Homo sapiens: one gene and its partners. The protein of the gene in region 7 interacts with the protein of the main gene of each other region in a biochemical or structural test. Each region holds a gene or a part of one and is shown on either strand. Other genes may lie near its edges.

Evidence for each region.
Region 1: of the proteins of PTPRO (region 7) and CDH2, one has a biochemical effect on the other in vitro, tested with the Homo sapiens proteins (one large-scale study listed by IntAct).
Region 2: the proteins of PTPRO (region 7) and TRPV4 interact in a test that uses a peptide from one of them, tested with the Homo sapiens proteins (one large-scale study listed by BioGRID).
Region 3: of the proteins of PTPRO (region 7) and PDGFRB, one has a biochemical effect on the other in vitro, tested with the Homo sapiens proteins (one large-scale study listed by IntAct).
Region 4: of the proteins of PTPRO (region 7) and TEK, one has a biochemical effect on the other in vitro, tested with the Homo sapiens proteins (one large-scale study listed by IntAct).
Region 5: of the proteins of PTPRO (region 7) and TEC, one has a biochemical effect on the other in vitro, tested with the Homo sapiens proteins (one large-scale study listed by IntAct).
Region 6: of the proteins of PTPRO (region 7) and PXN, one has a biochemical effect on the other in vitro, tested with the Homo sapiens proteins (one large-scale study listed by IntAct).

Annotation. Positions count from the first base shown.
Region 1 is NC_000018.10:28,167,131-28,170,630, reverse strand, and holds part of CDH2 (cadherin-2 isoform 1 preproprotein), read left to right. Parts: intron 1-3,500. UniProt on the Homo sapiens protein: Calcium-dependent cell adhesion protein; preferentially mediates homotypic cell-cell adhesion by dimerization with a CDH2 chain from another cell. Cadherins may thus contribute to the sorting of heterogeneous cell types.
Region 2 is NC_000012.12:109,782,589-109,785,493, forward strand, and holds the end of TRPV4 (transient receptor potential cation channel subfamily V member 4), read right to left. Parts: intron 1,850-2,905; coding exon 1,728-1,849; intron 1,191-1,727; coding exon 1,033-1,190; 3' UTR 501-1,032; downstream 1-500. UniProt on the Homo sapiens protein: Non-selective calcium permeant cation channel involved in osmotic sensitivity and mechanosensitivity. Activation by exposure to hypotonicity within the physiological range exhibits an outward rectification.
Region 3 is NC_000005.10:150,117,846-150,121,345, reverse strand, and holds part of PDGFRB (platelet-derived growth factor receptor beta isoform 1 precursor), read left to right. Parts: intron 1-23; coding exon 24-142; intron 143-335; coding exon 336-458; intron 459-1,222; coding exon 1,223-1,334; intron 1,335-1,779; coding exon 1,780-1,879; intron 1,880-2,493; coding exon 2,494-2,599; intron 2,600-3,495; coding exon 3,496-3,500. UniProt on the Homo sapiens protein: Tyrosine-protein kinase that acts as a cell-surface receptor for homodimeric PDGFB and PDGFD and for heterodimers formed by PDGFA and PDGFB, and plays an essential role in the regulation of embryonic development, cell proliferation, survival, differentiation, chemotaxis and migration.
Region 4 is NC_000009.12:27,199,725-27,203,224, forward strand, and holds part of TEK (angiopoietin-1 receptor isoform 1 precursor), read left to right. Parts: intron 1-3,095; coding exon 3,096-3,395; intron 3,396-3,500. UniProt on the Homo sapiens protein: Tyrosine-protein kinase that acts as a cell-surface receptor for ANGPT1, ANGPT2 and ANGPT4 and regulates angiogenesis, endothelial cell survival, proliferation, migration, adhesion and cell spreading, reorganization of the actin cytoskeleton, but also maintenance of vascular quiescence.
Region 5 is NC_000004.12:48,165,339-48,168,838, reverse strand, and holds part of TEC (tyrosine-protein kinase Tec), read left to right. Parts: intron 1-212; coding exon 213-253; intron 254-885; coding exon 886-1,061; intron 1,062-3,500.
Region 6 is NC_000012.12:120,220,731-120,224,230, reverse strand, and holds part of PXN (paxillin), read left to right. Parts: coding exon 1-80; exon of another isoform or gene 81-397; coding exon 398-513; exon of another isoform or gene 514-1,231; coding exon 1,232-1,368; exon of another isoform or gene 1,369-1,480; coding exon 1,481-1,682; exon of another isoform or gene 1,683-2,472; coding exon 2,473-2,608; exon of another isoform or gene 2,609-2,916; intron 2,917-3,305; exon of another isoform or gene 3,306-3,500. UniProt on the Homo sapiens protein: Cytoskeletal protein involved in actin-membrane attachment at sites of cell adhesion to the extracellular matrix (focal adhesion). Recruits other proteins such as TRIM15 to focal adhesion.
Region 7 is NC_000012.12:15,325,508-15,329,007, forward strand, and holds part of PTPRO (receptor-type tyrosine-protein phosphatase O isoform a precursor), read left to right. Parts: intron 1-3,500.

The DNA of each region.
Region 1 (3,500 bases), on a different chromosome or scaffold from region 7:
GCTGATGCCTGTAATCCCAGCACTTTGGGAGGCCAAGGCAGGTGGATCACGAGGTTAGGAGATCAAGACCATCCTGCCTAACACGGTGAAACCCTGTCTCTACTAAAAATACAAAAAATTAGCTGGGCATGATGGTAGGCACCCGTAATCTTAGGTGCTTGGAAGGCTGAGGCAGGAGAATCACTTGAACCCGGGAGGCGGAGGTTGCAGTGAGCCGAGATCATGCCACTGCACTCCAGCCTGGGCAACAGAGCGAGACTCCACCTCAAAATAAAATTTAAAAAAGCTACAGAGAAGGACAACCAAAATAAATGAGGATTTCAGGCTTCTGAATGAGGATTAATTTGACACAGACCACAATATAAGCTATAACTGAGAAATATACAATCAAACAGTAGATTTAAGAATGAAGATAACCTAAACTAACACTAGGACAATCCAAGTTAGGTTTAGAACAACCTATAGCAGCCTGAGCTATAAGTAGATCCAAAGGAAGATTGGCTGAATTAATGGATAGCTAAATAATGGATACGTTTCCATGCTGACATCATGGAATAACCACTTTATGCTGAGTTCTCAGTGCCTGAGAGATTATAATAGTTGGGTAAACCATGGTAATATTTCACATTCTCCTGACTGATTGAATGTTTAACTTTTCATCTGTTCTAATAGTGGAAGTGTAATTGAAAGTGGACCTTACTAGTATGTGGAACTGGAGATACAGAAGAACATTTAGTATATGAATGAGAGTTCTAGTGTACCCACTGCCTTGATTAAGTAAGCAGTTTAACTTGGGTTTTTCAAAGTAGCATTGGGAGAATTAGTTGTATAGTGCTTTAAAGCAGCTTGAGCTATTTAAAAAGAGTTGCTATTATACATATGGTATGGGAATTATAATGCAGAGATGTTTGATCCATGATCTGTTCTTAGATTTTCTTTCATAAAATATACCTAGCTATAATTTAAAAATTAGATAGTGTACTTACCTACTCCCATATATTGTAGTTTTAATTTTAATACTGATTTTTGTGTAATTAAAAACATTAATTGGCCATTATAATTTAAAACATGTATGCCCAGATTTTCTTTCCATTCTGATATGTTACTTAATGTTTGGGTGGATTAAATAATTAGTTTTAAAAAGTAAATTAAAAGGTGCATAGTTTGGAGTTTTTATTATTCCAGAAATCACTGGCACTAAAAATGTAAAATGACTCTTTTCTCCCTTCATTACTAAAATACACTTTGAGTTTTCTTAACTTTCTTCTGTTGCACTAAATATTGGATTTTGATGTTACTGCTTTCGTTAAAGGTTGTAAGGATTGCCCTTTTAGTTTTTTCCCACATCTGCAGTTTTAAGACATTCCTCAATTTATTTTATATTTGGTAATTGTCAGTACGTCATTCACAGAACTCAGTAGAGCAGATACAGCAGAGAAAACCCTTGAAACTAGGTATTTGCTGCTGCCTCTTTAAAGAGTTTTTCAAGCCAATGTCTGTTAGTATTAAACCTCAGAAATTAAGTATTTTTAATTTCAGGGAAGGAAACTATTATGTTTCAGTTCATTGTTTCTGTAACTCTATGAGATAGGTGGTTTTGCTCTCATTTTAGAGATGGTAAAACTGGAACTCAAACATTCTGAATATGAGAATCCAGAATAAAACCATATTTGTCATATTCAAGTTGGGCTTGACTACAAAGCATACGGGTTTCTCCCTTTATCAGACTGCAGCCCTTTTTGTATAATACCCAGAGAATGACTGTCACAATAAAGAAGAGTTTCAGTTTCTCTCTACTTAGTTGATTTTTTTTTCTTTAAATAATTAACTTTTGAATTACACTCTCTGTTTAATCTTGGCCTTAAATATTTTGCTTTCTTTTGGCATCTGAAGCCAAAACATAATGCTTGGTTAAGATTTTCATTCTTTTTTCCTGTGGTCTTTAGGAGAGAAAAAACATTTTAGAAGCATTCATAATCAGTTTTTAAAAGTTCTTCTAATAGTTTTGATCAACAAATAATATGCTGGTAAGTACTCAAAAATAATTTTTTTTAATGAATCTTGGAACTTAAAATACTTTCTGAAAGCCTATAAACTCTCAGGCCACAAGACCACACATTTTTTTTGAAACTCTTTTTTCCATATTCTTCAGGGTGAAAGTAAATGCAAGATATTCCACCACCAATTTTTGAAAAGTTTTAATGTTTAATGTTCAAACATTTTCCATATTTGAACACTTTGCATTACTTTTTCGCACACTAATAATGTTATTTGGCATATTTTAATATACATGTCCACATCTTGAAATGACCCACTGCAGACAAGTTCCGGTGAATATTCTGTAGTGTAACTGAGTACAGATACTGATTTGTTTGCTGCTGGGAAAAACCTAGAACTATTTTACTTGTAACTTGACCTGTTGTTGGTGGGTGGATACACTTGGCTTGACTGTAATCTTGCACGAAATGTCTTGTTTGTTGGTTGGGAAACTATTAAGTGGAATCTGAAATAAAGGACTAAAAAAAATTACATTTACTAAATTGAAAGGGGATGTAATCCCCCCGCTCCCGCTTAACATAAATCTTTAATAAACTCGAAACTGTGACCACTTTGTTATTATTTTTCCTTTTGTTGTCTTAATTGGTTAACACAGACATTCAAAGTCTGAAGTTCATTCTTTATGGCTCTCGGGTTGAGTAAATAAAGAAAAGTCTGTTTTTGCAGCGAAAATATTGGCCTTTGGCACCCACTCTCTTGCTAAAGTCTATTTGGTGTCAACACCTTTACGATTGAGTTCTAATATCCTGCTACCTGATATGATATTTTAGGGAACTCAAAATTCAGATTATGTACATATAATACACACATATACATTTACTTTATGGAAGTGTCAAATGCATACAGGAAAATATACATAGAAGTGGACAGCCTGCTAAATGTTCCTAAATGGAACATACTAGTTAATCAGCACTGAATCAAGACAGAGTTTTACCAGTACCTCCTTCCAATTTTAACCGTCCCTCAGTGGTAACTATTTATTTGACTTCCAACAGCATGATTTTTTTGCTCATTTATACTTTGTGAAACCATATTCTCTTTTGTGTCTGGCATCTTCCACTCAGTACGCAGAATCTTTCTTATATTTATATCATATGTATTTGTAATTGTCACAAAATTAGGAAAGACGGACACTATAGAAATATATTGGAGGTAAGGAGGGTGAAGTTGGTTTAAAATGGAAAGATTAATCATTTTTTGCAGCTAAAGGCCACTCGCACATTTATGGTGTCAAGCCACTAAATACCTTTTGTGGGTTTTCTTACAATATCTTTTGCCATAGTTCTGGTAGTTTGGCAATATCACTTCAGCCAAATGCCAAATACATTTGGAATTCTGTTAAGTTATAGTCTCTCTTGTCCTTCCTTTTATTAGAACGAGAGTGGAGACAAAGAACTAAATATCTTTCTGACCTGAAGTTTTTAATCAGAAGATTTAGGTGT
Region 2 (2,905 bases), about 94 Mb from region 7:
GCAACCATCCTCCCGCCTAGCAGGACAGCCCTCCCAGTATAATTGTCCCCTGATGAGCACCAGAGTCCCCGCACCTGCACTGTCAACCCCTGGCCAGCGTTACTCTCCCCTGCCCAAATGTACTGTCTCCATGGGGATCATTATCCCCCAGCCAGCACTACTGTCACCCCCACCAGCATCACTCTCGCCCTGCCAACATGACTCTCCCTGGCCAGCATTATTACCCCCACCAGCATCACTCTGCTCTCCTCCCTCCACCCCCACCTTCCCCACAGCCACACCAACCTCAGCCACCTCTCAGGCCACCACCACCACCATCACAACCACCCAGTCCAGCCCCCAACCACCAACACTCTAAATGCCTCCCGGTCAGGACTTCTGCCCTCACTCTCACCCCTGCCCCTGGCTCCCCCCAGGCATTTCCTAGCTCTCCCATCTCCCTCGCTGCAGTCTCATGCCTGTTACCATCCCTCCCACCCCTGCCATCATCCTGCCATCTCCACCGTCAATGAATAAACATTTATTGAGCACCGGCAAATCCCAGACACTACAGAACACACAGAAGGCATGGCCCCACGCCGAGGGCCCCAGCCCCTTGCAAAGCTGCCACGCTGCCAAAAATGGTGGCGCATGCAGCTCAGGCGCAGGCTGAGGCTGGGGCTTGGCCGGGCAGTGCACTTGGAACGGGGTCCTAAGGCCTCTGCCAGGTTCCAGCTGGGGCAGGGGTCACGTCGCTTCCTGAGAGCAGAGCAAATAAATAATGGAGAGGCAGGGGCTGGGGCCTGAGGTGGAGGGGCTCTGGCGTTGGCTTATGTGACTCCATAGGAGCAAGACAGGTGGCCGGGAGCCCCCACCCCAGGGTGGGGAGGCAGAGCCAGGGGACCACAGGGTCCTGGGGCCTCCCTGGCACCTCCACTGGTCCCTCGCCTCTGGGGCCAAAGCAGGGTGTGGGGGGACACCCCAGAAGGCACTGCTGAAATGCGGCTGGACTAGAAATGAGTGGGCAGAGAAGCTGGGGCTGGGCTGCAGTCCCTAGAGCGGGGCGTCATCAGTCCTCCACTTGCGGGGGTAACCCTGCTGGTGGCCATCGCAGCGGGGGTTCCCCATGCTGTCCAGAGGCACCACCACCTCGTCCGGGTTCGAGTTCTTGTTCAGTTCCACCACGCGGGGTACCACCGAGGACCAGCGATCTGCACCGAGAGCACATCAGAGGGAGGGGTGGGGGTTGGTGGAGAGAGAGCGTGCGTATATTGAGTGCCTACTGTGTACTGGGCACTCCACAGTGTTCTGAAGGGGGGATGTGACTATGCTCATTTTACAGAGGTGGAAACTGGGGCTCAAGAGAGGTCAAGGTGCCTCCCCAGGAGAGAATGGAGGAACCAGGATTCAAGCCTGGAGCCGAATGCCCTGAGTGCCTGTGTCCTCTCCAGCTGCGTCTCGCGTGCTCATGGCTTACTGGACAAACAGGAAGGTTTTCTCCACACAGGGATGGCTGAGGAGCTCGTCCTCCCTCCCCAGGCCAGCTTATGTCAACAGTAGGGAGGGCCAGGATGAAGCCACGTAGGTGAGGTGCCCCAGGCATTCACAAGCAGCAGAGGAAGCTCAGGGGCACACTCTCTCATTCTGTAGACACGGACACTGAGTCCCGGAAAGAAGCAGGACTGCTCAAAGCAAATTCGTGATGAGAATGGACTGGGGCTCCCCTCCGCACCCGCCCCTCCACTCACCCCTGCGGAGGCGGCCCACGGTATGCGAGAAGCCATAATACTGGTAGGTCTCATTCTTGCCCGGGTCCTCGTTGATGATGCCCAAGTTCTGGTTCCAGTGAGACCAGTTCACCTCATCCACCCTGGCAGGGCCCAAGCAGAGGGTCATGGGGAACCCCTCAGAGACGCTCTCCATGCCACCATCCCCAGCACACCCTCCTATTTTTTTATTATGGTAACATATACATAACAAGGCTGGGCGTGGTGGCTCATGCCTGCAATCCCAGCACTTTGGGAGGCCGAGGTGGGTGGGTCATTTGAGGTCAGGAGTTCGAGACCAGCCTGGCCAACATGGTGAAACCCCACCTCTACTAAAAATTAAAAAAAATTAAAAAAAAAATTAGCGGGGCATGGTGGCGGGTGCCTATAGTCCCAGTGACCCGAGAGGCTGAGGCAGGAAAATCACTTGAACCTGGGAGGCAGTTGCAGTGAGCCGAGATCACGCCACTGCACTCCAACCTGGGGGACAAAGCAAGACTCCATCTCAAAAAAAAAAAAAAAAAGACGTGTGTGTGTGTGTGTGTGTGTGTGTGTATACACACACAAAAAATTTGCCATCTTAATCATTTTTGAGTATACAATTCAGTGGCATTAAGCACATCCACATTGTGTGACCATCACAGCTATCTATTTCCAAAATTCTTCCATTCCCCCAAGCAGAAATTATTTTTTTTAACCTTCTTTTGAGACAGGGTCTCACTCCATTGCCCAGGCTAGGGTGCAGTGGCACGATCACAGCTCACTGCAACCTTGACCTCCCAGGCTCAAGTGATCCGCCCACTTCAGCCCCCCATGTAGCTGGGATTACAGGGATATGCCACCACACCTGGCTAATTTTTTAAAAACGTTTTGTAGAGATGGGGTTTCACTATGTTGGTCTTGAACTCCTGGGCTCAAGCAATCCTCTTGCCTCGCTTCCCAAAGTGTTGGTATTACAGTCACCACGCCTGGCCCAGATAATATTTCACTGTACACATAGCCCACATTTTGTTTATCCACTCATTTTTTTATATATTATCTTTTTTTTTTACATATTATCTTTAATTTTTTATCCTATCTATTCATTTTTGTTTGTTTGTTTTAAGGCAGAGTCTTGCTCTGTCCGCCAGACTGGAGTGCAGTAGTGCAATCTCGGCTCA
Region 3 (3,500 bases), on a different chromosome or scaffold from region 7:
GTGACCCTCTGCTTCTCCTCTAGCCCCTGAGAGGACCTGCCGAGCAACTTTGATCAACGAGTCTCCAGTGCTAAGCTACATGGACCTCGTGGGCTTCAGCTACCAGGTGGCCAATGGCATGGAGTTTCTGGCCTCCAAGAACGTACGTGTGGTGTTGGTGGGGCAGAGTGGGGGCTGTGGGGAGGTGGGTCACCCAGCCAGCCAGCATCCTCCAAGAGCACACCAGGGTGGCCTCTCGCACATGGGCAGTGTTGTATTTTCCCAAAGCCCTTGACATGAAGGGTCTTTCCCCACAATTGTCCCCAAGGCCTCAGCTCCCCTCTCCCCAAACCCAGTGCGTCCACAGAGACCTGGCGGCTAGGAACGTGCTCATCTGTGAAGGCAAGCTGGTCAAGATCTGTGACTTTGGCCTGGCTCGAGACATCATGCGGGACTCGAATTACATCTCCAAAGGCAGCGTGAGTACCTTCCCTGGCCCCTGCAGGGCAGTCACAGTGCCTGTGACCGCAGGAACAGATTCCCTCCTGACCAGTGTGGCTGCAGCTCATAGGAAATCTGTGTGGGGCTCCTTGTGGCCTGCCCTGACAGCAGTGATGGGCTGTGCCTGCCCAGCTATGTGTGCAGGGACAGGATGGGGAGCCGCCCAGGAGTGCATGGAGCAAGTATAGCGGCGGGGAGGGCTGGCTATAATGGGTCCAGGGTGGGGGAAGGGGGAACAGGCCGAATGTGTTGTTCCAGTGGTGGTGGGCAGAGGAAGAAGCCCAGGTGACAGGGCAAGAAAGATGAGCAGGTCACATGCAGTAGCAGGGATTGGTCTGGTTAAAACGTGATCATCCTGCCTGTCTCTCATCTCCCCACTTTTCCGCAAACCCCAGATGGAGGGACGCTAGGCCCAGAGATCAAAGGCAGCCAGGATAAGAGCTTGGGGGGTGCCTTGACAAGTCCCTGGCTCCCACACTTCACTACTCAGACCCTGGGGCTTTTCCCCAGGGACAGGGGCTGCCTTGTCCCCAGCTAGTGAGAAAGGAAACAGCCTCTGGTCCTCTGACCAGCCCTGGGATGGACATGGGAACTGTGCTGCGCAGAGACCAGGGCCCTCACAGGGAATGGGACGGAGAAGTGGTTGTGGGTGGGAGCTGCCAGATACCCTCCTCCCATCCCAGGTGCAGAGTGGGGCTGAGGTCCTTCCTTGCACTCAGCACCTGTCCTGACCTCCCTACAGACCTTTTTGCCTTTAAAGTGGATGGCTCCGGAGAGCATCTTCAACAGCCTCTACACCACCCTGAGCGACGTGTGGTCCTTCGGGATCCTGCTCTGGGAGATCTTCACCTTGGGTATGCTTGCTTCCTCCTCCAGCCCTCAGCATCCTGGCCTGGTGTCTACCTCGACCACTCATGCCTCTGGCCTGGTGGGGCTATGGGACGAGCCCTGATACAGGGATCCTGGTTCAGGTCCCAGCTCTGCTACCTTCTCCCTGCTGTGTGATGTTAGCAAATTCTTTGCCCTCTCTGGGTCTCTTTATCTCCCTGTCTGAGCATTGACAGGTTTGAACAGTGACATCAGAAAGCCTGCTTGGCTCTCACATTCTGGCTGTCTATCCTGGGGAGGGTTGTGGTCTCTGTTCAGAGCCCATGAAGGAGCCCACAGTTCCAAATGCCAGGGGCACTGCCCCCTTACCCATACCAGGGCCAGCATGGCTCTCCTTGTCCTGTAGAAGAGGGTGCCCTGCCACTTTTCCACCCCTGAGCCTGTGTATCTCTTGTCTCTGCTCCCCAACAGGTGGCACCCCTTACCCAGAGCTGCCCATGAACGAGCAGTTCTACAATGCCATCAAACGGGGTTACCGCATGGCCCAGCCTGCCCATGCCTCCGACGAGATGTGAGTGGAGTCTCATGCATTTGGGAGGATTTTGTGCTGCAAACAATAGATATCCAACTCTACTGGCTTAAACCAAAGATGAGAGATTTGTTAGCTCAGAGATCTAGAAAGCCTTGGTGTAACTGGATCCAGCCATTCAAAGGATGGCATCAGGAACCTCTTGTTCTAGCCCTGAGCTCTGCTTTGCTCTGTGTGGCCTCATTTTCAGGCCAGCATTGCCCAAATGGCTACCAGCAGTGCCAGTCTCATGTCCTACTGCTTGCTCCATAGTGCCAGCAAAAGTCCCAGAGCTGACCTTCAAGGGCTCAGGTGGGGTCACATGCCATCAAGAACCAACCGTGGAAGCTGCAGGGCTGAAAACTGTTGGCGAAGGTTGGCTCCTGTGCTCACCCAGGCGTAGTCAACCTGTGGAACCATGTGGAATGGGGGCTCTGCGAGGGCCTCCCAAGGGAATATCCAGAGACAGGACCTCTGGATACACCCAGCCACCACTTCCCTCCAGCTCCTTTCCATGGCTCACCTTGTTCTGAGAGGCAGCAGCCTCCTGCTCCCCCAGCCCTGCCTTGTCCCCTGAACCCTGGGCCAGAGGCCCTGACCCTTCTCCCTATCCCCAGCTATGAGATCATGCAGAAGTGCTGGGAAGAGAAGTTTGAGATTCGGCCCCCCTTCTCCCAGCTGGTGCTGCTTCTCGAGAGACTGTTGGGCGAAGGTTACAAAAAGGTATGTTGAGGCAGGGTAGGGGTGGAGCACGGAGAGCTCTGGTGCAGAAGTCAGACACCGAGTACAAGGCTCTGCGTGATGGGCTGGCATTTAGGGGACCACCCTTTGTCCTCTCTGGGCCTCAGTTTCCCTGCTGGTTCTAGGAGGGGATGGGCTGGCGCTGTGAGTTTATTTTAGCAGCAGAGAGCTTTATGAAATGGAATCCTACATGGAAGCTGATCGATTAGATGCAGGGAGGGGGCCTAGAGCACTGTCTGTCCTGCTGCCTCCCTCAGGCCTTTACCTCCATACCGAACCGTGGGGCTCCTTCAGAAGTGTGAATAACCCCAGGTTACATGACCATGAACCGCCTGACCACTTGGATCCTGTCACAGGATTGTCCAAGGCCCAAAGAGCCAGTAGGGCCCTGAAACCCTGCCCCGTCCAACAACACGGGTCCAAGTGAGGAGGAAATACACATGGCCTTTGACACAGAGGCAGCTCCTTCTTTGGGTCCATTTCTCACCCCCACTGCCCCCCGGGGATGGTCCCAGGGACCTGGGAGATGGAGTAAGGTCATCACCACTTCACAGCAAAGGAAACTGAGGCCCTGAAGAAGGACGCTGAGGCAGCATGAGAGCCTGTGCCTGTCTGCTCTGAAGTGGGGGAAGAGTTAGAGTCCTGGGTGCTGGTCTGATAACTGCCCCTCCCTGGGTGGTCCTGAGCTCACCATGCCTTGTAAGATTCTATGTGAGGTAGGAGGGCAGCTCAACCATGTGGCTTGGGCAAATCCCTTTCCCCTCTGAGCAGCGGGGGTCTTATTTATACAAAGGGGGATGGGCTCGGTTAGAAGATCCCTGAAGGCATTTCTGGCCTGACCATCCCTGTTTCTTTGGTTCTCCCTGCCCCGGGAGCAGAAGTA
Region 4 (3,500 bases), on a different chromosome or scaffold from region 7:
AGGTTGTCTTTCTTACTGATTTGTAAAAATTATTTGTGTAATCTAAATACTTTGTTATGTGTATTGCAAATATGTTCTCCTAATCCCTTTATTGTAACCTTGTTTGTGGTGGCTTTTAACCCACAGACACTTGACATTTTGATGCAGCTGGACCTGTCAGTATTTGCCTGTGTGATTTATACTTTTTGCATTTTGGAATTATTCCCTATCCCAAGGTCATAAACATATTCTCTGTGTTTTTCCTAGTAGTTCTAGTGTTGTTTTGTGTATTTAGGTCTTTAAGATATAAAAATGTTATTTTGGGGTGCAGTATATTTTAATATTTTTATTTTAATCTTATTTATTCACATATGGCATGTCAGTGGTCCCAATGCCACGTATTGAGTAGTCCCCATGGTGAGTTGTGATGATTTCTGTATCATATGCCAGGTTCTCATATTCATTTTGCATCTATTTCTGGATGTTCTGTTCCCTTCCATTGATCTGTTTGTTCCTGTACCATTTCCAGCATATTAACTATAAACTTGTGAAATGTCAGTAACTATGGGATGAATCACTATTTCCTATTTCAAAATTATCTGAGGTGCTCACTCACCTAAACTACATAAGTTTCATCCTCATTAGAATGATACACTCTCAAAATCACACTATCATTATCATATTTATAGGATTAAACAAAAACTAGTTAATAGTCACTGGGAGTCGACTTGCCTTGGATGATTGTATGAAGTTTGATGGAGGGTCAATGCTGGTGGTGGTAGTAGGGATGTGAGATTGGCAGGGTAGGAGTTGATCCCTATAGGGTCAGGAAATCCGAGGAAGGAGGATGTGAATGAGAACATCTCATTTTTACCTGAAAATATTTGTTAATATGCTGTGTTGTCATTGATCATGTATGTTCATAAGTAAAATTAATACTTCCAGTTATAAAGTTTGTGTTGGTTTCCAGCCTAGCAATTACATCTGGTCCAGGGGTAAGAAGTGGAGTGAATTAGATTTGGCGTATCACCCCAATCATATGTTAAAAATAATATATGTGTGTTATGTTTTCCTGTTGGAAAACATTTACATGGGGAGTATTTGACCCTTACAATGACTTTTTGAGGAAAGTAGAGTAAGAATGATTATCACAGTTAACAGATGAGGAACCTGAGGCACAGAGGAGGGTAAGTGACTTGCCCAAAATTATGGAACTAGTACGGCATGGGGATTAGGATTCTAATCCACATTTTAGTTCTATTTTTCCCCCCACCATGCTACAAATGTCTTGCACTTGTCTCTTTGGATGGGCGACCCACTGCTTCAAAGCAACTATGCTTCTAGAGGTTCTTTAAGTAGTGATATCCCGTTTCTAAATTGTTTAAGGTCTGATTAGTGTTTCCTAAAGCATTTTAGAATCTATTGTAGAGTCACCCAGAGAACCTGCTAAAATGTAGATTGCTGGGTCCAGACCCGCTGAATTTAAATCAAAGGTTTATTGAGCTATCCCTAAGAATGACTCCTTTCAGGCATAAAATGGTAAGTTGGTAGATGCAAATTTATGATTTTTAGTTGGCACAAAAATTATATTCATTATTTTTCTAACAAGCTTCTAAAAGACACTGCTGCTTTTTGTGACAGGCTTAGAAGACCACTGGTTTATGAAGTTGAATTTTTTGAGCCACAACTATACAAATATTAACTATGTGATCATAGTAATCTGAAAATGTTGGTATTTCTATTACTCCTTCAATCTCATGTGGGAAGAAAGGCTATTGTATATTTTTATAAAAATATACAAAAGACTTGGTACTGGATGTAAAGAAAGTTAAGACATACTGTTGATTAATTGTGATTTTTGGATACTGTACCATCTGCTAGACATAGAACATAACAATCAGATTTGGAAGGTTCTAAATCCAATACCTAATTCTCATAAATTGCCACAGTCCCCTAAAGAGTAACAAGGGGGAGTCAACATAATGAAAAGAAGAAATTTAAAATAGAAAGGATGTACCTTGAGATACTTCTCAAAGGTTCTAAATTGTTTATAAGCAGTAACTTTCATGTGGAAAAACAATGGTGTATGGAATGAAACAGCCTATGTCTACTATTCGCCTACTGGGACAAGTACAAACCCCTTAAACTTTTGAAGTCTCAGTTTTCTCATCTCTAAAATGTGGATCATAAAAAATCTCAGTACTGTGTGGTTATACAAGTCAAGAGAGTGTCTGCATGTGGAAGCACATTGTAAATAGCCTCATAAATGTAAGGTACAGTTACTATTAAGGACAAGAGCTCGAATCCATTCTTTTCCTGGATCAAATAGGCTTAGCCTTTATTGGATCACGAACTTCCCTTCTAGCCTGTGCCCTTTAGAGTTTGAGTGAGAATGTAGTGATGCTGCGGTGCCTGTCATCTTCACATGTGGAAAACCTCAAGGCATCTCTTTCTCATCCTGCCCGTGTCCCTGAATGGAATGTGATTCCACTTTTCCCCAAATCCCTATAATACTTTGTCTACTAAAAGTTATTAGCACATTTTCTCATGTATACACTGACCTGCCTGCTGCTCCATAAATTGAGGGCAAGGACTGACCACATGACACTAAGACTATGGACTACAGAGCCAGACTGCCAGGAGTTGAATCTTGTTTCTTCTACTTAACAGTAGTGTCACCATGGCTAAGTCACTTAATCTCTCCAGACCTCAGCACTTACAGAAAGATTGCTATGAAGAGGAAGTGAGTTAATATATACAAGAGACTAGATCAATGCCTGCCATATTGTAAGCACTATATAAATGCCAGCCCTCAGAAGCTTTCCATTCTTCCCAGCATCAAGAATAGTAAGTACAGGTTTGTGGAATAACAGAATTTCTAAGGCCTTCATTTAGTGTCAAGATGACAGATAGATGATATGTGTTGCCATTTCTCTGTCTGTGCCACTCTTTCAAGTCTGCGTGGAGTCCAGTAGCCACTACCAATTGATTGGGGTACCATATGAGAAAACATTTGTTTGCCTTATATGAGCTGACATGAACTCTATCTCAAAAGCATAATGATCTAGGCCATGGTAGTATATCTTAAGTGAATCTTTTTTCTTTTTAATTTCTAGTTCTTCCTCCTCAACCAGAAAACATCAAGATTTCCAACATTACACACTCCTCAGCTGTGATTTCTTGGACAATATTGGATGGCTATTCTATTTCTTCTATTACTATCCGTTACAAGGTTCAAGGCAAGAATGAAGACCAGCACGTTGATGTGAAGATAAAGAATGCCACCATCACTCAGTATCAGCTCAAGGGCCTAGAGCCTGAAACAGCATACCAGGTGGACATTTTTGCAGAGAACAACATAGGGTCAAGCAACCCAGCCTTTTCTCATGAACTGGTGACCCTCCCAGAATCTCAAGGTTGGTTGAATGGACAAGTATTTACATAGGATTACCGTGCAGCCCTATAGGCAGCTGGTTTATCAGGACAGGCCTGTGAGATGAAAGCCTATGAAAAGTCGGTGG
Region 5 (3,500 bases), on a different chromosome or scaffold from region 7:
GCGTTCAGAAAGGCAGAAATACAAACCAGCTATAATAGCAGTTTTTAATTCTGTTCTAGAATAGAGATACAAGCAGCATACACCAGAGTTGGTCAGAGTGTGCTGCTTGTCTATGTGTTAACTTCCACTTTTCCTTAAAACTACCCATATCTTATTTTTATCAATTATTGGTAGATAGCATTTTAATCTGTTTTTGTTGTTGGCATTTTCAGGTATAAGAAAAGCACTACCTCCAGCACCAGAAACAAAGAAGGTAGGTGGTCTTTAGCTTTTGATAGTTAATCTTTACATTTTAAGCCTTTAAGTCTTAAGTTTTGGTAGTGTTTGTGACTTACTGAGTATGCGGTTTATTCATTGATGTGACACAATTTTTCCCTAGGATCGTCTCAGAAGCAGATGTGCTGTAGCTTATTTCAATTTTTTGTGGTGTCAAATAATACCAATTTAATTGTATGAGATTTTATCATTGGAGATCCTGTTATCATCTGGCATTTTGCCTCTATTTTCACTTAAAGAGTTGTATTAAGAGGAGTGGGATTTAGATAAATATTTCAGTCTTAAGACCACAGTGTGACAAAGAAGTGACTTCACTGATATAATGATATGCCTTTCAGGAGTGGGGTATAGTGGAGGAAACATGCACTTTGGACTCATTCAAGACTTGATCTGATATGAGTGACTTTGAGTGGGTTAATTAAATCATTGTTACCTTAGTTATGAAACAGGAATTATAATACTCTTCTTCATGAGAGTTTGTTGGATTATAGTAAGTAGACTTGAAGTTTCTAGTTTATTCTGTGGTGATGTATGACTCATTTAGTGTTTTGATTCATGATCAGTTTCATATAGAAGACTAAACTTTCAAATGTTATCTTCCTTGTCTAGCGAAGGCCTCCCCCACCAATTCCACTAGAAGAAGAAGATAATAGTGAAGAAATCGTTGTAGCCATGTATGATTTCCAAGCAGCAGAAGGACATGATCTCAGATTAGAGAGAGGCCAAGAGTATCTCATTTTAGAAAAGAATGATGTTCATTGGTGGAGAGCAAGAGATAAATATGGGTAAGTATTCCCTCTATGTGTGTGATATGCAGTGGGTAGGTGGGAGTCAAGTGTTGAGTGAGAAGTAGATAAGTCGTAACTATCGTGTAATGAGACTAATTTCACCAGCCATAAATGGAAGCACACCTTATTACTTGGTAGTAACACAGTCCTTTCTTAGTGGTCACTCAGTAAATGCGAATTGATCAATCACTTCTTTTCAAAAGTTAGAATACATTGGTCTCTTTCTCATCTGATACATGTTTAATGTGATTATTTTGACCTTGAGGGAAATTAAATTTTATATTTTGTCCCCACCTGCCATAAGTAAGTAATCTTAGATTTTTCTAAGAGTTTATTGTAATTTTTTTCTTAGACTCTCTCTCTCTATATATACGTATGTGTATGTGCGTGTGTGTATGCATACACATACACAGTATAATGAAGCCTCTTCTCACTTCTTTCTCTCTCTCCATGAATATATGGAGGAATAAGAGAATATATATATATGTATATGTGTGTGTCTATATGTGTGTATATGTGTTTGTGTATGTATATATAAAATATATATATGTACATGCAGGAAATTAAACAGCAAGCTTTTTTTTGTACAAGTTAATTTAGGATTTAAAGAAAACAGTCCTTTCAACCCTATCATTGATAAATATATGGGCAGATAGGGGTAACTGTAGGGGATGAGTATCTTGCAGGCTTCATAAGCAAACTCTGTATCCTGTGTTTACCTCTGCAGTGCAATCCCACTTATACTCTGAGTTCCAGTGGATGAGAAGAGGAGAACTTTTTGTCCTGCCAGAGCACACTCTTCTTCCACCTGCCCTCTCACCTCCCAGCCCCAGCCCCAATTTCAAGTCACTGTTCCTCAGTTCACTTCTGGAGAAGCAGTGGAAACCTCTAGTTTAGGCGGGGTCCTTTTCTTCTGCTTGATTCCTAGGCATGGTGCATATATGAGTGCTGTTTTGCTGTGCATTATTAACTTATTTGCAACTCTTAACCTTTTATTCCATGTTTACAGGAAGGTTGTCACTGCTTCTCTTTATCGGATGCTGTATAAGATTGATTTCTATTTTTAATTTTTTTTTGTTGTAGAAATTTTCAAGCATCCAAAAAGTATATAATAGTATAATAGAATCTCTTTTTGCTTGACTTCAAAAATTACCAACATTTTGCCAGTCTAATCCTTCCATTTTTTTCTAGAATATTTAAAAGTAAATTCAAGTCATCATGTTATTTCACTCCTAAATCTAAATTCTAAAGACTTAAAAAAAACACCACCATGTCATTATCATTCTTAATAACAGTATTTTAAATAAGATCGTCTGTAGACTTTCCCTTAATATTTTTGTACCTGGAGGAAGAGTACAAATGAGAATCCACATAACATATATCTAAGTATTTAGGAGTTATAAATCAAGCTAGCAAACTTTATCCTCCAACTTGACAAATACCCTTTCATAGTGACAAGAAAGGCACGGTTTGGATTTAGAGCTCTGTGCCAGAATGTTGCAGTGCATGGAAAGCTGGCTCTGGGGGGGCTACCTCTCTTCTTTCTTCCCTCCTGCCCTGGCTCTATCTCTCATGTACCATATGGATCTTCCAACCTGTACACCCACACTCTTACTGCGTGGCTTGCAAAAGCTACCCCGCATCATGGCCACACCTTCAGCCTCAGTGAAAGGGAATGCACATGGCCAGCCAGCACAATTTGTTTTTTAGAAGATGGACCCAGTAGAAGGCCCATGTAGACCTTGGAAATGAGCAGGGTGTTCTGGGGTCCTAGTTACCCAGAAAGGAGCATGGGAACACAGGTCAGAGGGAACACGCACTTTTGCAGAGCTCTCAAAAGTGTGGGGTTAGAGCAAGAGCTTCTCTGGCCCAGGTCTAAGGATGGAACCAATTATGTAATTCCAGTTTCCCCGATTAGCTCTAATACTTATTTTTACTGTTGGTTTATTCAAATCAGGACCCACACACTGCATTTTGGTTAATATATCTCTTATGTTTCTCTTATTCTACATTTTTGATTTATTGATGAAAGCAGGTCATTTAACACTAAAATGAGCCATAATCTAGATGAAACAGATTGTTTTCTTGTGGTGTCACTTAATATGCCTGTGTTTCTTGTATTTCTTGTGAACTGGCGAGTAGAGCTAGAGGCTTGATCACATTAGAAGGTGATCTCTGGATGTCCTACTTTTAGTAATGCTAAGATTGCTTAGTGGTTCAGGTGTCAGACTTGTTCCTCTGTCATAAAGTTCTTCATTGGTATTTACCCTGATGATTTGGGGGTTCATTAATGATTCTTTCTTAGAGTCATTATTTCATTAGGGGTTACAAAATGGTGATTTCCTAATTTTGTCATTCCATCTGCATTTAGTAGTTCTCTAAAGAAGAACTGCCTCATATACCAGTTCATTTAGTTCATGAAGGAAAGGAAAGATG
Region 6 (3,500 bases), about 100 Mb from region 7:
CCAGCGAGGCCCTCAATGGCACAATCCTTGACCCCTTAGACCAGTGGCAGCCCAGCAGCTCCCGATTCATCCACCAGCAGGTGAGGCGGGGACAGTGGCTGGGAAGGCCAAGGAGGCTGGGGGACAGAGGGAACTTAGCTGGCAGGGGCTTAGGGAGCCAGGGGATGGAATGGAATTGGGGCAGTCGACCCTTCCCAACCAGACACTGCTCTTCCCACTCACCACGTGAGTGGAACAGTGACCAAGTGGTTAATCACAGGTTTCCTGGCCCAACTGTGGAAATTCCCTGGTGAGACTGGCTGTGGGCAGGAGCCTCCTGGGGGTGACTGGAGCTGCTCCTGGCCCCTGTTCCTTTTTCTCCCCTCGGGGTAGCCTCTGAGCATTCTCCTTCTCGCAGCCTCAGTCCTCATCACCTGTGTACGGCTCCAGTGCCAAAACTTCCAGTGTCTCCAACCCTCAGGACAGTGTTGGCTCTCCGTGCTCCCGAGTGGGTGAGGAGGAGCACGTCTACAGGTACTGCCCCAGTCTGCCCAGGGCACCTTCCCTCCTGCTTAGAAATCTCAGGGACCTGGCCAGGGTGGGAGGCAGCGGAGGCCCGGGAGCAGGCATAGCAACTGGGCCTTGTGGGGTTATTCTGGTTTAAGCTGCAGAAGGCCTGTCGGTGGGCCCGTCTACCTCATCAGTGCCATCTCCATGCAGTGGACATTCTGGGCTATCACAGCATCTCCGTGTAGCTGAGGAACTGAAGCAAGACTTCATTCCTCCCCTCTTCTTTTTTTCTTTTTTTTTGAGACGGGGTCTCGCTCTGTCACTCTGTCGCCCAGGCTGGAGTGCAGTCGCGCGATCTCGGCTCACTGCAAGCTCCGCCTCCTGGGTTCACGCCATTCTCCTGCCTCAGCCTCCCAAGTAGCTGGGACTACAGGCACCCACCACCACGCCTGGCTAATTTTTAGTAGAGACGGGGTTTCACCGTGTTAGCCAGGATGGTCTCAATCTCCTGACCTCATGATCTGCCCGCCTCAGCCTCCCAAAGTGCTGGGATTACAGGCGTGAGCCACTGTGCCCGGCCTCCTCCCCTCTTCTTACCACATCCCTTCCCTACCCTCTGTCCTCTTGCGGGGGAAGACTTCGCATCTCCTCTGCCTTGTTCTCCTTGGGAATCTGGGAACTGCCAAGCCAGTACAAGGCCAGAAAGCATCTCTCACTATCTTCTTTCCTTTGCCTCTCAAAGCTTCCCCAACAAGCAGAAATCAGCTGAGCCTTCACCCACCGTAATGAGCACGTCCCTGGGCAGCAACCTTTCTGAACTCGACCGCCTGCTGCTGGAACTGAACGCTGTACAGCATAACCCGCCAGGCTTCCCTGCAGGTAGGACCGGGTCCCTGGGGCAGGGTCTACCAGGGCCCAGGGCCCATCTGCTGACCTCTAGATCCCAGGAGGGCTCAAGGGCTGAGCAGCCTTTTTCTCTCCTCTCTGCAAGATGAGGCCAACTCAAGCCCCCCGCTTCCTGGGGCCCTGAGCCCCCTCTATGGTGTCCCAGAGACTAACAGCCCCTTGGGAGGCAAAGCTGGGCCCCTGACGAAAGAGAAGCCTAAGCGGAATGGGGGCCGGGGCCTGGAGGACGTGCGGCCCAGTGTGGAGAGTCTCTTGGATGAACTGGAGAGCTCCGTGCCCAGCCCCGTGTGAGTACCCACTGGGCCCTCCCCAGGTGGGGAAGGGCTGGCCCAGCCTGCCCCGGGTCCAGTGTCTGTCCCCTTAGCCCTGGTATCACCCACTCCCTCCCGTGTCTGCCATTTGCCAGGCACTGGGGGGATAGTGGTGAGTCACATGGACACCATCCCTGCCTTCAGCCAGTCACTGCCAGTCAGAAAGGACAGACGTTGTGCAGGCTGAGGGCGCCTGGAGCTTAGCAGCTCTTAGCACAGGCTTTGGGGCCACACAGTGGGGTTCACATCTTGGCTCTGACAGTTACTGTCAGCTCTCAAGCCTTAGTTTTCCCATCTGTAAAATGGGACAAGAACTTATGGGATCACTGGGATAAGACCACCTACCTCAGTAAGGGTGAGAACCAGTAATCCATGTAAAGCGCTTGGAATGGTTTCTGGTGTGTAGTGCGTGGCACACATGGTGAGTGCCCAACACGCGAGCTCTTACCAGTGCCGTCGTGTTACTGCAGTAGCCTCACCTCCATGTCCAGTGTTGTGGAGGAAACACAGGGCGCTTGGGCTTGTTTCGCAGGCCAGCTTTCACTTGGGCTGGGGGCTAGAGGAGTCTTCCTGGCACTTCCTGGTGCCATTGAACTGCCCTTTCTTCTGACCCAGTGATGGGTCCCCAGGAGAGACAGGGAGCTGGTGGACCTCCCTGGGGTTGGGGATGGTGAGACCCCAGTGTCCGAGGTGAGAGGTCGATCTGATCCCCGGGAAGTGTGGGGCTGACTGTGGGCTCCCCACTGATGCTGTGCCCACCCTGCAGCCCTGCCATCACTGTGAACCAGGGCGAGATGAGCAGCCCGCAGCGCGTCACCTCCACCCAACAGCAGACACGCATCTCGGCCTCCTCTGCCACCAGGGAGCTGGACGAGCTGATGGCTTCGCTGTCGGATTTCAAGGTGCCCTGTGAACCCTCCATCTTCCCTGCCCTGCCGCCCCTCCCTCATCCTTCTCCTCCCTTACCTCAGTGTGGGTAGCTGGATCTTGGCATCTCAGTGTTTGGGTGCCTTGCCCCTGAGCCAGGGACACTGTCATGCCCTGGCCTTGCTGTGATGCCAGGAGATGGGGAGGGAGGGCCGGGTCAGCCTGCCTGAGGATTGCAGTAGCCAGTGAAGGCAGACAAGCTGGAGAAGTGCTCAGCTGGGACATTCCTTCCTCCCTGGGTGCTCCCAGCCTCTCAGGTCGAGGGGATCAGGAGGCTGGGACGCTGGGACAAAGAACCTTGTGTTGATGGCTGCTCTGGGTGGGGGAGGGCATTCTCTGCTGGGCCATGTGGGACTTGGGAGCCTGTGCCTGGGAGGTCATTTGCCCTGGAGCCCCATCTCCCACGCTAGCTGTCCTCAACACATCCTCTTTCTTTCTGCCTCTGATCCTGAATCCACAAGCCTCCCTTGCTACTCTTCTCCCATCCTTCCCTCTCGCCCTCCAGGGCCTCTGAGTTCCCACGAGCGTGTCTGTGGGAAACCATGGGGCCAGGCTTGCACGAGGTACCTGCCCTTCCCCTCCCCTGCTGGGCCTCCCCAGTCCTGCCAGGCCTGAGATGTTTAATTTAGAGGATTCAGTGTTTCCTTGGGGATTGATATTGACAGAACTCACCAGCAGCTGCTGACTTCATACTTCCACGTGGGTCAGCTGGAGACCTTTGGGGCATGACCTAGGGAATATGAGAGGGGAGTGAACGGTCCCTGCACCCTTGGCCCTGATGGTGTCTCCTAGCCTCCCTTCAGCTGAGGTTTCATGGTGGGAGACAGGAGTGTGGCTGGGGTGGAGGGTTGAGCCTGGCCCTGTGAC
Region 7 (3,500 bases):
TGAAAATTTTTATTTTTATATCAATATTGATGGTGTATATAAAATAGAAGAAAAAATGGAACTCTGTTATTATATTGAAGGCTACTAATTTCAAAGTCTTCTATGGATGAATGCAAGTGAGGTATTTATCTGGCGAGCCTCGCTGTTGTGTGTCTTCCCATAATTCCCAGTGAAAGAAATGTAACTTCCTACACTTGTCCTATCTTTACTAAAGCCCTCCTAGAAAATGTCTTCCTGTATCAGTTTACTCAGTATAAGTACTTTGTCTACTAAGGTGCAAATCGTGGAATATGACATCATAGGAATTTGAAGTTGGCCTTCCCTGAAATGTTGCTTTTTAGTAGTCAGCTGGAATATATTCCTAAACTCAAGTGCTTGGCGTGTGTCCTTCTTTTTTAACCCCTTCTCTCTATTTCTTTCTATTTCTGCTTTTACCAGAGATATCATCAAAGAATATCAAATTTAAAAAGGGTCTTAATATTGTACTTTCTGAAACAGGTTTATATTTAATTCTATAATACATGAGTGTTATGATACTGGCCATTCTACTCTTATCCAGGGGAAATATCTGTTTTCCACGGTCTGTCTGCCTTTCCTTTCCTATGTCTCCCCTCGCAACCCCATACACACACACAAAGAAGTTTCACTTTTCGTGGTTGAGGTTTCATCCATAAATTGCACAGTGTTGGCAGGTGAACCATAATCCTTTCATTTTGCTGGAGCAGCTTAGATCCTTTCCATCACAATGAAGTTTGCTGCCCTTAACTCCCATGTCATCTGACTCCTTTAATAAATCATATTGCCAACCTTTTGGAGAAACCTTTTTACATGTGACATCCCCAGTAGGTTGGCAAAGGCTCCCTGGGCCATGCTTCTACAGATGATCGAGTAATAATCCTTCCCACTGTGAACATATGTTTCCTTTTGTTCTTTGTTTTGTGAGAGACTATCGTTGTGTGAAGGAATGAAAAATTCACATTACACCTCTGCCTCATTTTGGCCCAAAAGAAAATGCACATTTATGTGGATAACTGATTAAAAACAATATGAGTTGTACTTTATTTTAAAATGTAACACTATTTCTACTATCTAAATATCCAACTTAAAGGTATTTAAACGTATAAGCAGATTTACTCCTGAACCTTATAAATATAATTCTAACTTGAGGGGTTGTAAAAGAATGTTTGATGTCAGATACAGTTGATGCACTTAAGTAAAACATTGTAATTGGTAGCAGTGTGGCACAATAGAAGGCTTAACAACAATGACCACAAGTTTTCATTTTCCCCTAATTTAATGCCTCTCCGTACACAGTTTCAGTGATGTTGCATTTTCAGAAACATATCCCAGTGCAGTGATGAGCTTTACTGTAAAGCACTTAATGTTTTCATTTAATTACTCCAAATATGTTGTAAATATTTTTGAAATAAAGGAATGTCTACTGTAATATTTCTATCTTTCATGGTGCTAGTATGTGGTGTTAGGAATTTAATAGAAGGTTAATAAACAGATTTAAATTTTCTGCATTATATAAAAGCTCTGACTGAGAATTATGAAATATTGTAATATTGACTTGTGAACACATCTTTAAGGAAAATATAGGAAAATTATCATTATGGGAGTTAAATAATCATAACTACAATGCACTCATTACATTCAAATAGTAAAAATTTTACCAATCACTTATATTAGAATCTTATTAAAACCATAAATTAAAATATCAGTTATTTTTCCCAGAAATGTAATATTCTCAGTTGCTCATTTATTCATTAATGTTACCTCACCTCTGTTTAATGTTATTAATTAAAAAGTAGCAAATGACATACTAGGGGAAATTGATTTTTTTAACCTGTATGGGTGACCTACAATTTCAGCTAGTACCCAGATATACAGGTAATATTTTTGCCTCCTCTTCCACATCACCACTCCGCTATGACCACAACCAACCAGAACTGACCAAGATTTCTGTGTTCCTAGTAGAAATCCTCCTAATGTTTTGTCAGACATCACCCTTAAGAGATGAAGTATTTTCTACACCCTGGTCTTGGTTATCCCTATGGTAGTGTTTAATCCAAGGTCGTATAACCCAATTTCTTACAGAACTCTTCTATAGTCATCTTAAATACCCATTATATCAGCTCTTTTTGCTCAAATAAATATGTAAGTTTTTTTTGTGCGCTGGTGTCATTGATTTGAGGAACCCAAACAAGGTTAATGTGGCTCAAGTAAAGTGAGCAAGAGTGTGAATGGATTGGGATGAGTGTGAATGGGTTCCTTCTCTCCTGGTGCTGTTGACTCCAGCAGGTCCCATAGGGTTTCTATCAGCCAATAAGAGGTGGCTCACGCCTGTAATCCCAGCACTTTGGGAGCCTGAAGCAGGTGGATCACCTGAGGTCAGGAATTCGATACCAGCCTGGCAAACATGGTGAAACCCCGTCTCTACTAAAAATACAAAAAACAGCCAGGTGTGGTGGCAGGCACCTGTAATCCCAGTTACTCGGGAGGCTGAGGCAGGAGAATCGCTTGAACCCAGAAGGCGGAGGTTGCAGTGAGCAAAGATCACACCATTGCACTCCAGCCTGGGCGACAAGAGTGAAACTTGTCTCAAAAAAAAAAAAAAAGTATATGTGAATAACCTCCTTAATTAAATACCTCTCATGTAATCTGCTATCACCAATTACTCCTAATGTTTCCCTTTTCCAAGCTTGTTCTAGGTCTTCAGAACACCAATCCTTAGATTTTTTTTCCTCTGCACATTGTACCTTTGAATTTATTTCTATGAGTAAGATCATATCTTAGCCTTGTGCCAGAAAAGCGTTCGCAAGTCTTTCAGCATCTAATTCCCGAATGAAAGATTTCTTCTTTCCTTAGACATTCTAGTTACTTAAAGGCCAGCTCCTTTTTCTTCTGAATATTTTAAAACCACCAAACAAACAGAAGATGTTTGAAACAAGGTTGCGGGGATTTCCTGATAAAAGGTTTTTTTCTTTCCTTTTTTTCAGGAAATTGAGATGAAAGGGAGAAAAGTGATATATGCTTGGAAAAATATTTCAGAAACAGAGAATCAGAAATGGAAATAGGACTTCAAGCTTGAGAGCGGTATTGCAAATTATGAGTATGAATGGTAATTTCTGTAAGAAAATGAATATAGGGGAAATTAGAGAATGAAATGAAGAACATTTGATGAAAACAAATACACTGCAATTCTATTTATATGCAAATAAATGTATTTTCTTATCAAATACTCTTTATCTATTTGGTTTTTCACTCTTTATAAATAGGAATGCTGCACAGTTCATTTTTCTAACAAAACTATTTCTATCTTAATGAAAATTTAAACTAAATAAACCTATTTTTAAATGTGATTTTTGGTATATTTACTAGCAAATTAAAAGAATAGGAATGCAATTTATCTACAAGTAGTGGTGCAAGATCAGAATTATATTAATAGTAATCTATATGAGATTTAAATGATGAATGTTTCCCTTTTTTGTGCTATT